Homo sapiens: one gene and its partner. The protein of the gene in region 1 purifies or fractionates together with the protein of each later gene. This does not show direct contact. Each region holds a gene or a part of one and is shown on either strand. Other genes may lie near its edges.

Evidence for each region.
Region 2: the proteins of USP37 (region 1) and FBXW11 purify together in Homo sapiens (affinity purification with mass spectrometry; 7 studies listed by BioGRID and IntAct, with this or other methods). This does not show direct contact.

The regions. Positions count from the first base shown.
Region 1 is NC_000002.12:218,557,989-218,565,943, forward strand, and holds part of USP37 (ubiquitin carboxyl-terminal hydrolase 37), read right to left. Parts: intron 4,826-7,955; 5' UTR 4,685-4,825; intron 2,896-4,684; 5' UTR 2,832-2,895; intron 690-2,831; 5' UTR 666-689; coding exon 510-665; intron 1-509. UniProt on the Homo sapiens protein: Deubiquitinase that plays a role in different processes including cell cycle regulation, DNA replication or DNA damage response.
Region 2 is NC_000005.10:171,996,036-172,003,990, reverse strand, and holds part of FBXW11 (F-box/WD repeat-containing protein 11), read left to right. Parts: intron 1-680; exon of another isoform or gene 681-810; intron 811-6,939; exon of another isoform or gene 6,940-7,101; intron 7,102-7,955.

The DNA of each region.
Region 1 (7,955 bases):
TTCTTCAAAACTTCACAGTTAGAAGAAAATAGCTATAAAGATAACCTTGAATAATCATCCTTGAATGATTCACACCATGACATTTGGCAGGATTATTCAGGAAGTAGACACTGGCTTTTAGAAGACACTAATAAATTCTGTTAAAAACTAACACTAAATAGTGATGAATCCATCGTCATGTATGTTAAGGGGAAAAAAAGGAAGAACTAAAATTATCTTAAAGTGGTTTTAAAAATAGCTTAGATATACAGTATCCGAACTCTTGTCAGCTTCCTCCCACAAGTTTTCTTTTCAATAATGGTGACTACTTCCTGCTTTTATTATATACCAACAACAATACTGATGAATAATTTATAAAACATGTACATAAAAATATTAATGTCCTAGAAATAAGAAGCAAGAAATATTAATCTAGGAGGAGGGCTACTGTGATGTTTACTATGGCACAGAATAGCTATTTACTAAATGATCTGCTTCAAGAGCTATTCCAAATCAATATTTGGTATTACCTGAAATATCCTTGGAATTCCTCCAGTATTGTAGTGAACTACTAGGCTGACTTTATTCTCTTTTTCTACAATTTCAAAGGATCCTTCTTTCCACTTTGTAATCCCAGTCTGCATACTTCGAATTCTGATAGGACCATGTATCTTCAGAGGAGACATATTTTCTTTAAAAATTGCTTCTGGCTAAATTAAAAAGCAAAAATATACCTTTACCTGGCAGGTTCTAAGGAAGAAAAATAAGATAAGTTATAACTTACTAGTAATTAATTTCTAACCACCATGCATTTCTTCTGCGCCTTCATTTTCCCTTCTTTGCCATGTGTCCAGTACTGTATTTATTAGTGCCTAAATTCTACATTTTGTATCATTCACAACCATACTGCTACCGCTAAAGACATGTCAACAGGAATAAGATCCCATTCTCAAAGTGATTGCCTTCACCATTAAAGTGTTGATTATTCTCTTCCTTCATGAAAGCTAATGGGTCTGGATTTCCAAATATAAGTTAAAAAAAAAAAAAAAGTGTGTTCAGGCCAGGCATGGTGGCTCAGCCTGTAATCCCAAAACTTTGAGAAGTTGAGGTGGGAGGACTGCTTAAGCCTGGGAATTTGAGACCAGCCTGGGCAACACAGGGAGGCTCTATCGCTACAAAAAAACTGAAAAAACATTAGCCAGGCATGGTGATACACGCCTATAGTCTCAGCTTCTAGAGGGGCTGAAGTGGGAGGATCACTTGAGCACAGGAGGTCAAGGCTGCAGTGAGCCATGACTACCCACTGCACTCCCGCCTGGGCAATAGAGTGAAGACACTGTCTCAAAACAAAACAAAACAATACAAAATTCAGGCCTCTGACTCCATTTCTTAGAATGGAGTTCCTCCCAAAACATCAAAGTATATCACCAAATGCTTCCTTCTAACAGTGAGCAATCTAAGCATATCCGTATGTACAGAAGACATTAAATGAGTAAAAAATTTTAAAAATAACCAAGTTATTTGACCTCCAGAATTACAATATTTGAGGAAATCATTTAATCTCTAGAGAAAACAAACAAAAAACCTCTCTTCCAAAGAACCACCTACCATTTATATTTAAACTACCATTCCTAGAAAGAATCTTTACCAATTTTATCTTTAACAAATACTCAAGTTTCCTGAATGAACTTTTAATACTCAAAAATGGCTGGGTGCTTGTCAGGCAATATTTGAAAACTAAAAAGAAAAAATGGCCGGACACAGTGGCTCATGCCTGTAATCCCAGCACTTTGGAAGGATGAGGTGGGCAGACTGCTTGAGCAACACGGCAAAAACCTCATCTCTACAAAAAATACCAAAAAATTAGCCTGGCATGGTCATGTGCTCCTGTAGCTCCAACTACTCCAGAGGCTGAGATGGGAGGATCACCTGAGCCAGGGAGGTCGAGGCTGCAGTGAGCCATGATTGCACCACTCAATTCCAGCCTAGGTGACACTCTGAGTGAGACCCTGTCTCAAAACAAACAAACAAAAAAAAAACACAAAAAACTTAAACTTACAGCAATAATCGGATGTGTAAAACTCTTCAAATTAGCTTTTGCAAAAGTCAACAAGTAAATAAAATTACAGTTATAGCAAAGAATGTTATCAAATAGTGTGTTACATACATAAATATGCAATCATTTAAAATTGCGAACTCAAATTTTATACTATTTCAAACCTTTAAAAACACTACTTCTAAAGTGGATTCTTGCTTATAATTTACTAAATTAAACACAATTAAACATTACCTTTGCCTAAACAGCTCAACAAGAAAAGCCAGAAAGGCTAGTATATAAAGGAAAATGATGCTAGGTCTAGAAATCAGCAGCCAGCCAGCCCTATCACTTACTAATTTGTAACTTACCTTCTTTAACCATAAGTTTTCTCAACCACAAAATAGGAATAGCAAATGTTTTAGTGTTGTAGAATGAAATAATACATACTAGGCACTCAGCAGACAGCAGTAATTAATATTAATGGAATTAATGTCTGTTTTCTGAATTTATTCCATGTCCATAATACCTCTTTCTCCAAAGACCTCAATAAATACAATGTTAACAGGAGTCACTAACTCAACTATCTATAGGGGCTAGCAGGTGACAGAAATGACTTAAGCAGGCAAAATTTGAACAATTGCTACCCAATCTAGCCAATTATTACCATGTAGAAATAGCGAACCTAGCATTGCCAGACCATCTAACTTTTCAAGAAAATAAAGACATCCAAACGTTTATGTAAAACTGTCCATTTTTAATTGTTGGCAATGAATTCAAATTTATTTTTAACAGCTACAAATCAAACAAAACTCACCTACAGGCAGGATACAGTTTGGGGGCCCCTAGTTGGAGGTCTCTGGTTACTGTATGGCAAATAACTGAAGATAAAAGAAGATATATGAAAACACTTTCGAGAGTTTAAAGGTGTTAAGTATCATAAGTACTCTATTATTATTCACTCATCTCATCAAAAATTTTTAAGTGCTTACTATGGGCAGATTTAGATATTAGTATAATGTGCTGGGTAATATGAATTCGTCAAAGTAATAGAGTCCATTAATGTTTATAGAACTGTCTGTTAACATGACATTTGGCTCAAACTAGTAATGCTACAGAGCTACAGAAACTTGAGCCAGCAATGTATATCTGTAATACTTTTTTCTGCAATTATAATTTGTGACTTTATTGTTGGATACATCCTTGAGACTTTTTTCCACTCCGCCACTCAGTGCTACAAAGAATACATCACTCTTCTACTCCAGTTTCCCATGCCAGAAACAGAAGACTTGTCTTTGGCTTCCTTCTTGATAATTATTGGTATTAGATTAGAGATGGAAAGTCAGGAGAATCCCATCAATTCTGCCTCCACAGATCGGGAGCTGTGGCTGATGCCTGTAATCCCAGCACTTTGCGAGGCCGAGGTGGGCAGATCACCTGAGGTCAGGAGTTTGAGACCAGCCTGGCCAACATGGTGAAACCCCATCTCTACCAAAAATACAAAAATTAGCCAGGTGTGGTGGCGTGCGCCTGTAATTCCAGCTACTTGGGAGGCTGAGGCAAGAGAATCGCTGGAATCCGGGAGGCAGAGGCTGCAGTGAGCCGAGATCATACCACTGCACTCCAGCCTGGAGCCAGACTCTGTCTCAGAAAAAAAAAAAAAAAAATTCTACCTCCATACACCTTTCAGACAGCCTTATAATGAACTGCAGATCAAATCATATCCCTCTCTTGCTTTATATCATTCAATAGCTCTCCACTTGTTCTCGCAATAAAATCTAAACTCACTAATGTGACGTAGAGGCCCTTCAGGACTCAGGCCCTGCTTACCTGTCTATTCCCAATAAAACCCCCAAATCCTTCTGAATTACTTATAATTTCCTCAAAAATCTCTATGTTCTCATGCCACTATACCTTTGCATACACAGAGGTCATGTCTAGAGGATTTTTATGTGTTCTCCCCATCCCCAACCCTCCTTAATTTCTTCTCCTGGCTCTAAAATCAAGACTCAATTTACACATTACCCTCTTTAAAAAGCTTTATATAAAAGATGTAGGACATAAAATTGGCAGAACCAATATAATAAACTTTTTCATAATGCCTCAATTTAGTTCATTACCTGCTTTTGCACTAAATGAATTGACAGCTACATTTGCTCATTCATTATATTATCAGGGCTTGCTCTACTTGGTTAAGAGTAAAAAACTAAGTTTCTTTTTCAGCATGAAGCATGATCCAGTAACAGTTAAACTTCCTATGAACCTAAGACAAAGACAGGGTTTCCTTAAACTCGGTAATGGTAATTGTCTTATTAAAGCAAAAAAATAAGAAGACAAAAGATAATTAAAATGAATTATTCTTTAAATATGTCCAGAGATTCTTTCTCTAAATTTCTTCACAATTATTAAAATTACTGTTCAACTTTGAGCATCACCATGAATGCTCAAAGCAACAATATTAGCAAAAATGTTTCTATGCCCTGTACATTTATTTAAGTGCTCACATTTTAGGTACTGCTTTGAAAACATCCTTAATCAGAGAGCATTCAGTGGTAAATAAAGTATGGCCAAAACACAAAAACTATTACTACAAAACAAACACAAAACTGTCAGTTCCCGCCAGATTGCATGCTCTTTGAAACATATATCCAAAACAAAAACATTACTTACTTTTCAGTGACTTTTACCGAAAAACCCTATGTAATAGCAATTCACCTTTATTCTGATCCTTGTGCCAAAGGCAAAGCACTCTTCTTGGGACACTACTCATATTCTGCAGCTATGCCAGTTCTCCGGAAGCCATCAACTCAGCTAAAGAAAATAAAAATGTGCTTTTTAAAAAGAACCCAATATACAAAATTAATACTTAAAAGAAAGTGGGCTGGGCACGGTGGCTGACGCGAGTAATCCCAGCACTTTGAGAGGTGGAGGCGGGCAGATAACCTGAGGTCAGGAGTTCGAGACCAGCCTGACCAACATGGAGAAACCCCGTCTCTACTAAAAATACAAAATTAGCTGGGCGTGGCAGTGCATGTCTGTAATCCCAGCTACTCGGGAGGCTGAGGCAGGAGAATTGCTTGAACCCAGGAGGTGGAGGTTGCAGTGAGCAGAGATCACGCCATTGCACTCCAACCTGGGCAACAAGAGCAAAACTCCATCTCAAAAAAAAAAAAAAAGGAAAGTGATCGTTTATACAACAAAGATTAACTTCTTGGTTATTTAAAAACTACAGATTACCTTAATGAAAATATTTAAAATATGATGCACAACACACAGAGACACACATAAAAGATCAACAGAACTTTAGGAACTTATCTGCTGTGCATAATGAGGGATTACAGGATGAGCCTGCACCTTGTTCAACTTGTACCTTGGTTTATTCATTCTTGCTACATTTTGAAACTAAGAAGTCAGTGAGAAAGAATATGTCCTTTGTTCACTTTATAAACATTGTTACATAATAATGTCTTAAGTCTTAAAACTTCCATAACATGTTGATACTATTTCAAAAGGTGGGTAAACTTGGTGCTTTCACTTTTCTTTCAAAGCTAACATTGTTTCTCAAATTAGGCTTCACTAGGCCTGAACTTTCTCTGAAGTTCTACCCGCACATCTCTCACTGCCTATCTGAATGCTACAACATCAACTTTAAACTCCTTTGTTCATTTAGTAAACAACATTTATTAAGCTACTGCACTTTCAAGGCACCCTGGTAGGCATATAGATGTGAAGATGATACAGTCCATGCCCTCATTAAGAAGCTCCTAGAGGCCAGGCACGGTGGCTCACACCTGTAATCCCAGCACTTTGGGAGGCAGAGACAGGCAGATCACCTGAGGTCAGGAGTTCGAGACCAGCCTGGCCAATGTGGTCTCGAACACATTGAGACCACAATGTGTTCTCACTAAAAATACAAAATTTAGCTGGGTGTGGTGGCACACACCTGTAGTTCCAGCTACTTGGAAGGCTGAGGCAGGAGAGTCATTTGAACCTGGGAGGCAAAGGTTGCAGGGAGCAGAGATCACACCACTACACTCCAGCCTGGGTGAGGGAGCAAGACTCCGTCTCAAAAGAAAGAAAAAAAAAGAAGCTCCCAGACTTCCCTACTTTTGTCCTTCTACCATCATTCAGGCAAGAAATCTTGGCATCAGCTTTATCCTCACTCTTATCTACTCAAATCCCAGATTTTCAATAGCTACTACTCTCAGAAACTCATCACTATGCCATCATCCCACCTAGTATTTATTATGCAACCCAACATTTATTATGCAACATTTACTAAGCAGTGCTAAATGCCATACATGCATTATCTCAATTTAATTTTTAAAATAATCCTAAGTGATAGGGATATTATCTCTATTTCACAGATGAGGAAACTGAGGTTTAGAGACATTACATAATTTATAAATACAGTCAGTGAGAAACAAAGCTATGTCTAATGCCAGAACCTACATTTTTAACTACAACCACAGTTCATCCTCATCAATGAATTATGGCAACCCCTTCCCTTTCCAGTCTCAGCTCTTGGGGTTTTACCTCCAACAAATCCTTTACATTGTAACATCCTTTCTAAAGAACTACTCTTTTTACCACTTTTCAACTGAACTATGCACTAGGTATCTTCTTAACTTTCTCCCTAAGGTGGGAGTGGGGGGTAGAGGTGGGGCACGGGACAGGGAGGTAACACACAGAACTTGGGTACTCTAACTGTATACTCCAACAAAATAACAAACACTTGTTAAGTGCTAAATGGTTGCCATTGATGCTAGGACCTTCCCAAACTAAATAGCTCATCACTACCTAGAAAATAAAATAAATCCAAATGCTTGTGTTTGGTATTCATACACCTCCATTTTAAATTCCCTATTTTTCAACACGAATCCTGTTCTACACATACAAAAATTATTATATTTTAATATTTTCTTTCTTTTTCATTTGAGACAGAACCTCATTCTGTCACCCAGACTGGAACACAGTGGTGCCATCTTGGCTCACTGCAACCTCCACCTCCTAGGCTGAAGCAATCCTCCCACCTCAGCCTCCCAAGTAGCTAGGACTACAGGCACATGCCACCAAACCCGGCTAATTTTTGTAATTTTTTATAGACATGGGGTTTTGCCATGTTGCCCAGGCTGGTATCGAACTCCGGGGCTCAAGCGATCCGCCCACCTTGGTCTCCCGCAATGCTGGGATTACTGGCATGAGCCAATGCAGCTGGCCATATATTAATATTTTCTTTGTCATTCACCAACAACTGACTTAAATATGGAATTTTGCTTTATTTATGGAAATCTCATCTTCACTGGTCTTAAAGATTAACCGGTTGTTAAAATATACAAACCACTACTCTGATTTTTGAAGGCTTTCTTTCCTTTAAAAAGACCTATAAAACAAATGGACAAAGGAGAAAAAATTAGTTTTGTTACTGAAAGTGGAAAGCTGACCTAAAGTTTATCTCCAATTCAAAGAGTTTAAAATCTGAATGGTTTTATGATATAAAAATGGGTAAAAGAATCCAAAGTTGGAAAACGTTTTGTTTTTTCTCATGTGTCCTCTAACTTTTCAGAATGAAAAGTGTTTGTCATGAGATGATGACAAGAACATCAGCAAGCTTTGCTTCCAAAAGACATGATGGTTCTTACAGCAACTTCCAGCTTATTTAACAAATTATTGGGAAATAAAAAAGAAGTGGTCACTAGCCTATATTCTAATAGGAGACAGACTTTAAATAATCACACATGTAAATATATAATTACAAGTTCTGGGCTGGGTGCAGTGGCTCACACCTGTAATCCCAGCACTTTGGGAGGCCGAGGCAGGTGGATCATCTGAGGTCAAGAGTTCAAGACCAGCCTGGCCAACATGGTGAAACCTTGTCTCCATTAGAAATACAAAAATTAGCCGGGCATGGTGGCGGGTGCCTGTAATCCCAGGTACTTGG
Region 2 (7,955 bases), on another chromosome or scaffold:
TAGATTTTTATGAGTCAGCTTCAGTACTCAAATATTTGTGATTGTGCTGCTTGTACCAGTTTGGCACTTAATGCTTAACAAGATAACTTTCATTTGCTGTTCCAAAGTGTGCTGTATTAAAAAGAGGAAACAGACTTCTTGGTTATCTCCATTTTCTAATCTTCATCCCTGTACTTTCCTTAATATTGATTCTTCTGTTTTTCCTTGCATTTTTGATAAGTATATTAGGAAATAAAGCTGGTGATAGCAGAATAGTTAAATTTCTAAAATATAACCCCCACTTTGACTCCTACCGCTGCCTGAGGCCTGGGTCCACCCAGGTTGCTTCTCCTCCTGACCCACTCTATAGGATTCAGCTTTGAATATTAGTAAAGTCTATAAGCTCTTAATTTAGACCCTGAATTTACAGTTACTAATGGTAAATAATTTAACCGCCAGATGACTTTTAGGGCCTTATATTGGCCCAGGGCTATACCTGTTAGTGGGCCTATTTTTCCAAACTTCTGAGTTTGGTAAAATTCGCCTTATGAATGAGGCAGAAAACTAGTAATTCATTTTGGAAATATGTAAAGTTTATCCGGCTATGTTCAATGGACTTCATTGGGAAGAATGAGAACTGTACAATATGTATCACGTGGTATTTATTAACCTTTGAGTTAGGAATATGACTTGATTTTCAGGCACTCATCACTAGAAAGCACTCACAAGAGCTTCTGATTGGAAGAGAAAGATGATTAGATTACCCTGTAAGAAGCCAGCAGAAATTGATGCTATCACTTTAGGAAAGGCGATCCTGCCTCCTCCACGGGTGTGAGTGAATCCCCTCTTCCCTTTACACAATTAATGGATGGTTTATAATTAATTGTTAAATGACTTCCCTTTTTGCTAAGTGACCTTAAGTGAGTCATTTCCCTTCTGTCTTATCTCTTAAGTGGCTGTATTACTTGTTCAATGAAGTAATGTAGGTTAAAATACACTGATCCTTATTAAGAAGGTGTGGGCAGGTGCGGTGGCTCTAGCCTGTAATCCCAGCACTTTAGGAGGTGGGAGGATTGCTTGAGCCCAGGAGTTAGAGACCAGCCTAGGCAACATAACAAAACCCTGTCTCTACAAAAAATAAAAAAATTAGCCAGGCATAGTGGTTCACTCCTATAGTCCCTGCTACTCAGGAGCCTGAGGTGGGGAGGATTGCTTGAGCCCAGGAGTTTGAGGTTGCAGTGACCTGTGATTGTGCCACTGCACTCCAGCCTGGGTAACAGAGCAAGACACTCTCAAAAAAAAAAAAAAAAAAAAAGAAAAGAAAAAAGAAAGAAACGAATAAATGAAGTTACTGGAAATGTTGTCTTTTTTTCTTTTTGGATCTTTTTTTTTTCTTCCTGTCATTGACTTTCTCGGGGTGAGTGGGGTTGTTTAGTGACTTCATCAAGAAATTGGATATTACTTTGTCACCACCTTTCTCCTCATGTAGCACACCACTAGGGGTGCTAACTTACTGAATGCAGACTCAGTGGACACAGGTTTCAATAGGGTCCAAATGAATAAACCACACACACACACACACACACACACACACACATTTATATAAAATATATGGACCTCACTGACCTGCCTAAAGAGGCATTGGCTCAAATATATCAATTTTTGCCCCTGATTTTGCAGTAGGTTAGATATCCTTTCAGATTTGACATGGATAAACATGTTCCTGCACACAAGTCTTGGCATTCTGGGCTCTTGACTGCTATAGTCTGTCTCCTGCAAATAGGGAGCTAGCCCAGGAGAATCACTCAGCCATTACATAGATTCACAACAGCACATATATGCCTCTTACTAGTGTTGTTTGAGCCTGTGAATTCTAGAAACAAAATTATCTGCCCTGTAAGATCTGTGGGATCCTGGGTTCTACCTTGTGATATTTGTTCTTCATAGAAAACAAAGCATTTTAAGTCCTAGTGATTCCAATTCCAGTCTTCCTTTGTATTCCATTCTCCCTTATGGCTTTTCTGCCTACTTTCCTTGCTTACTGTATATTCTAGCACATGGAGGACCATGGTCCTCCAGATTCTGCTCACACGTTTCCTTTGTCAGCACTGATAGGAATGGACCTAAGCCCATTTATTGAAGGCTACTGATATTTATCAAAAGGATCTAATAGGTGGTTCTCTGGCCAAATTGGCTTAGGTTATATCTCAGCAATCTTCTCTTTCATTTATGCTAATGAAGTCCTATCCACCCATAAAACACAATAGGTGCCACCTCTTTTGATGTCAGTTTATATTATGGTAGCAGAGACTGTCTGGTTTTTGTGTCTGTATAGCACTGCCTATATGACACTCAAATGAAATGAATGAATTCTGGCACTTTGTATTTATCCTGTAGCACTTAACATATTTCAGGCTTGTAATATAGTTACCTGTTTGTGTCCTCTGTTGAATGATAAACTCCTCATGGGAAGGGCTGGGACCTTAATTATCTTCCAGTGACACACAGTTCCTTCATACACACGGTGTCTTCTTTGTGGTAGGCTTTCAGGAAATGTTGGGTTGAATTTTCCTGGTGATCATTTTCAGACATTATTGCCTTTTGCCTGTGTCTTAACTATCCTCTTTTCTAAACATTTTCACCCACATTACTAATTCTCACAATAATCAGTTCCAAATTTTTATGGGACTTATCATATCATCCTATTATATTATAAAAACTTGTGGTTGTGCCTAAACTCTTCTTCTAGAGGCTGTGTTTGATTGCCCTGTTACTCCTCAGCACATGGGTGCTCAATATGGATTTAAATTAATGTTAGATTTTCTTTCTTTCATGCAGTGAAACCTTTTAAGATTTCCTTTTGAATATCTTAAGACAAAGGTAGAGATGAATAGAGAAGAAAGATGGGGAGGGGGAAGAGGTGGGTGGTGTGTTGTTTATAGGACATCCATAGACATATTAACCATTATTTACAGACTTTCCACACATACAGATTGATTTACATAGAACTCAGAGACTGGTTGTTAGCAAAGAACTGAGGAAACTGAATACTTTTTGCATCAGTTGGTGCAGGTTTGCCAAATAGTTGATAAGCTCCAAGGGCTCCATGACCTTAGAAAAGCATGGTTTAGCAGAAAGGGCATGGGCTTTGAAGTGAAACACCTGAGTTTGTATCCAAGCTCTGTCGCTTGCTAGCTGTGTGACATAAAGAAAGGTAACCTTTCTGCAGTATGATTTGATTATATGTAAAAATAAATAAGAAAACTTAGGTATTGGTCTGAGTTGTTGGGAGGATTATATGAGAGATGTGTGTGAAAGGACTTTGCAGAGGCTTGCTTTTCTTCAAATGCTGACCATACTAACTTTCCCCACAAGTACAGGGACCCTAAAGCGAAGTCAAGACCGATGGTGTGGAAAAGGTCTTTCTCCTGAGTTGCGCATGTATTTATTTGTGAGGCTTTACAGAAGACTAACATTTAGTTGCTTTTAGCCATACATTTAATGAGCCATCTTTGGGAAAAACAATGAAATCATGCAGAGTCAATACTGTCTTGGAAAATCTGGGAGGTACTATTTCAATGACTACCAATTTGGCGTAATTAGATCTATGCTGTAACTACAGAGAGAACCCACCCAGTCCTATTTTTATGCCTGGTATCCTGACAGAAAGAGACTGGTGATTAGTTTATATTGACATTGAGCATTGGGATTTATGTTTGATCGGTTTAGTTTAGACTGACCAAATTGTGGTTTTTGAATTCTTATTCTTACCATCATCAAAGCTGATGGTTTTAACCTTAACAGAATAAGCAGTGAGAATTCATACAAGATTTTCTTCTGAGTTGTATTGTTCATTGAATTAGATGACAATGGGGGAAGAAACGTGTTGGTTAAGAATGTGCTCGTTACCCTTGGTTAGTTTCTGCTGATCGCAATTGCTTAAGAGGAAGTTTGTCTTTGTAGGCAAATGAGAGACAGACCAGGAAGACCTGACAATCCAGTAGGGTATCTCTTACCTGGTTCTTAGTGTTTTAATGAAACTAAAAGATGGAAGAGTTCTGTGATGTCAGCGGGAAGCGTTTTTAGGAAATTCCCTCTCAGGTTGAGTTAACAATGAAGAGCTTCACAAAATGGAAAGCTGTGAAGTATAAACACTGGGACATTAATAGGAAAAATAAAAAAAAAAGCTTTGGCTCTTTGGCTTGTGATAGAGAGGTGTGTAAATATAAGCATATTGAATGTAGGAAACCATTGTATAGTAAAAAGCCTCTGATCCACAGAAGAAAAAGAAAGACTGAGGTTCTACTATTGTGAAAAAGGAACTTGAGTAATTTTTAATGTTTATTTTTTTAGGAGTTAACTGGAGAACATTGAACCAGTTTTGGTAACTAACAATAAAATATATTTTGGCCCTCTGAAATGACTACATGATAGATTCAAAGAGAAAGGGGGCAGAGGGGCAGGAAGAACTCAGTCCTGACACTACTCACCTGGCATCTGTTAATCTTTGTATTACTAGCATAAGGCCTGCCAGCAATTAGGGATTGAAGAAATATATATATACAATTAGGGATTGAAGAAATATATATGTGTGTGTATATATATATATATTTTTTTTTTTTGAAGGGAAGGGAGAAAAATTAACTCACTAGTACAGGGGAAAAGCCTGAGGATTCAAGAGGTCCAGAAATGAGTCTGTTAGTCAAATTGCTGTGGTTGTGTTTTGCTATAACTTGTTTTGCATTTTGGATAGTCGTACCTTGAAAAGCATAGTATACTGTTTTAGCAGTTCGCTACTAGCCATAGTTCCCTAGCTACTTCTGTCAAAATTGGGTTTCCAGTTTATTCTTAGGCTTAGGAGTAATACCACTTAATGGGAAAAACTTGAGAACTCATTATTTGCTTGGGATTTTACTTTTGTGATCTCCTTAAAGTTGTGAGTCTTAAGGTATTTTCATCTGATTGTTATGGCGAGGTTAATCATAGACCGGTATTTCAGTCACTTTAATTGCCTTACCTACAATATGAACAATCAGAACATCTTTAAGAGTCATTGCCTGTGGACTGTCAACAAATCTTAGAATTTAAAAATTACTTGGGTTCAGCTGGATTTGAGATTCTTTGTCACAGTTACAATCTTTGCTGCTAAACACAAAGACTACTTGAGTACCATTATAGTATGTCTTGCCACAGTCTTTTTTTTTTTTTTTTTTTTGAGACGGAGTCTTGCTCTGTTAACCAGGCTGGAGTACAGTGGCACGATCTCAGCTCACTGCAGCCTCTGTCTCCCGGGTTCAAGTGATTCTCCTTCCTCAGCCTCCCGAGTAGCTGGGATTGTAGGCATGTGCCACCAGGCCCGGTTAATTTTTGTACTTTTAGTAGAGATGGGGTTTCACCATGTTGGTCAGGCTGGCCTCACACTCCTGACCTCAAGTGATCTGCCCGCCTCGGCCTCCCAAAATGTTGGGACTACAGGTGTGAGCCATCGAGCCCAGCCTATAATGTGTTTTGTTTTAGCATTAATATTGTGGGCTTTAGGCTGGGCATGGGGGCTCACACCTGTAATCCCAGCCCTTTGGGAGGCCAAGGTAGGCAGATCGCTTGAGCTTAGGAGTTCGAGGCCAGCCTGGGCAACATGGTGAAACCCTGTCTCTACTTAAAAAAAAAAAAAAAAAGACAAGAAAAAAATATCATGGGCTGTAGAATTGCATGGCTCTTTGTTAATTAAATGCTTTTTTAAGTGGCAAGATCTAGGGAATTACCCTTTCAGGATGGCCCAACTGATTCATGTAGGCTGAAATATTTACTCTTCTGTATTTTCATTGTTCTCCATTTTGATGTTAATTAATTTAGGACCTTTGAGAGTAAAGCTTGATTTCTTCTCCTCTCTCAGAAATCATGGGCTTTCTGACCCTTGAACTGTGGAGTCCATAGTGCTCCATGAAAAGGGCATGGGCTCTACTACCTAGTAGATGTGGGACTTTGGATAGGTTACTTCTTTCTGCTCATCTTTTTTTGAGAATTAAATATGGGTAATTAATGTAAAGGGCTTGGCCAGTTAGTAGCTTTTCAATAAGGTAGGTATTACTATAATTACTGCAGGAGCATTTTGGCTATAATGTAGCAATTGTGGAAGTAGCAAATTTATGTTCGAGTAAGTTCAGTCTTTTTGTTTTTATCTTTGTTGTTCTGCTGAATGCTTTTTCTCTTTCCCTTTTAGTTTGTTTAGAATTTGCAGTCTAATTTGATATGGTAGAAAAAGAATATTGATATAATATGGACAGGACTTAATATTTAATGGTGTCACCTAGTAAATTGTATATTAGCGTTCTTTATGATTTTTCCCAGTTTACGTGATCATTGGCCATTGTACGGGACTGGCCTTTACTGAGTCAGAAGTTCAGTCTTCAGTTATATGTTTTGAAGCACACTATATTTTAGCTAAGGGTAGAGGATTTGGGTAATATGTAGATATGATGTCTTATATGTAGCAAACCAAAACATTTTGTTAGGTACGTAAATAAATATCTTTATGGTAGATATTTGAGCCCTCTCGTATCATTCTTTTTGGCTGACAAACTATTTTTCTAATGGTGGAGGAGCTGTCTTAGAAAATGGATAAGGAAGTTCAGTGTAGCTGAATGGTCTAGGACAATTTATATGGATGATAGGGTAGGTATTTTTTAGCTGCTCTCATTTGGAAGTTGCATGCTGTTTATCATGAGTAAATATTAACATTAGGGATGTTCCATTATTTGTTACGAGTTTTGTATCCTTTCAACACAGAGGTGAGGAATGCTGCTGCAGGCATTTTATGCCAAATAGCTGACTCAGGGGTTATAACTTTTTTCCTGTGCCTCAGATCCACCATTCCATTGACCCTTCCTTCCATTTCTTGGAGGCTGTCCTTTGCCGCTGGTGCCATGGTGGGTGTATGGATTGCTTTCTGTCTTTCAACAGTTACCGAAGTGCATGTTTGGGATTTTGTTGAAGAAAGCTGGATACAGTAAACGGAAAGAATCTTGGAAGATGCTTGACTGCTGTCTTTTCTCAGACTAGTCTGAAAGGGAAAACCCCCATTCATTCTGGATTGGTGGATCTGAAGTACAAAATATTTTCCAGGTAAGCAATTACCCTGTATTGTTTTGTTTTGTGGAACTCAACTCGCTGAAAGAAATTTTGAAAAATATTTTCCCTTATTTATTTTGTCCATTAATAGGGAAAGGGAGAAATATTAGACGTTTGTGCGTAGTGTCATGTTTGGCCATGTTTGAGTGTGGATCAGTGAAGGTCTATGTGTCTGAATTCCTGGTAAAAACTTTGTTTTACTGTAAGAAGTGCAGTTATTATTATCTTTGAGACATCAGGTCGCCCAGGCTGGACTGCAGTGGCACAAACATGGCTTACTGCAGCCTTGACCTCTTGGCCTCACACGATCTTCCTGCCTTAGCCTCTCAGGTAGCTGGGACCACAGGCACATGTCACTATGCTCAGCTAATTTCTTTTTTGTAGAGACAGGGTCTCACCATGTTGCCCAGACTGGTCTTGAACTCCTGGGCTCGAATGATTTGCCTGCCTTGGCCTCCCAGAGTGTTGGGATTACAGACATGAGCCACCACGCCTAACTCAGTTATTTTTATTGTAAGCCCAAATAGTTTTTATTCATAGTCTAATAGGAAATACAGTAAACAGAGACATATGTTGTTTAGGGAATAGCTTGTAAAATATGGAAAACAAATGGTAACTTTGAGGCATTCTCACATGATTTATATAATAGTTAATACCTGGTCAAAATATTTTTTGCGGTTTCATGTAAAGTGGTGATATTTTATTCTGAGGTCTCTTGGCAGGTCGTCTTGGGGAGGTTTACTAACTGTAGCAACTGCTTATTGAGAGCGAGTGCTACATGCCAGTTACCCTTGTATGCACTTTACATATATTACTTAATTGGCACAATGCTTCACCTGCATTTTACA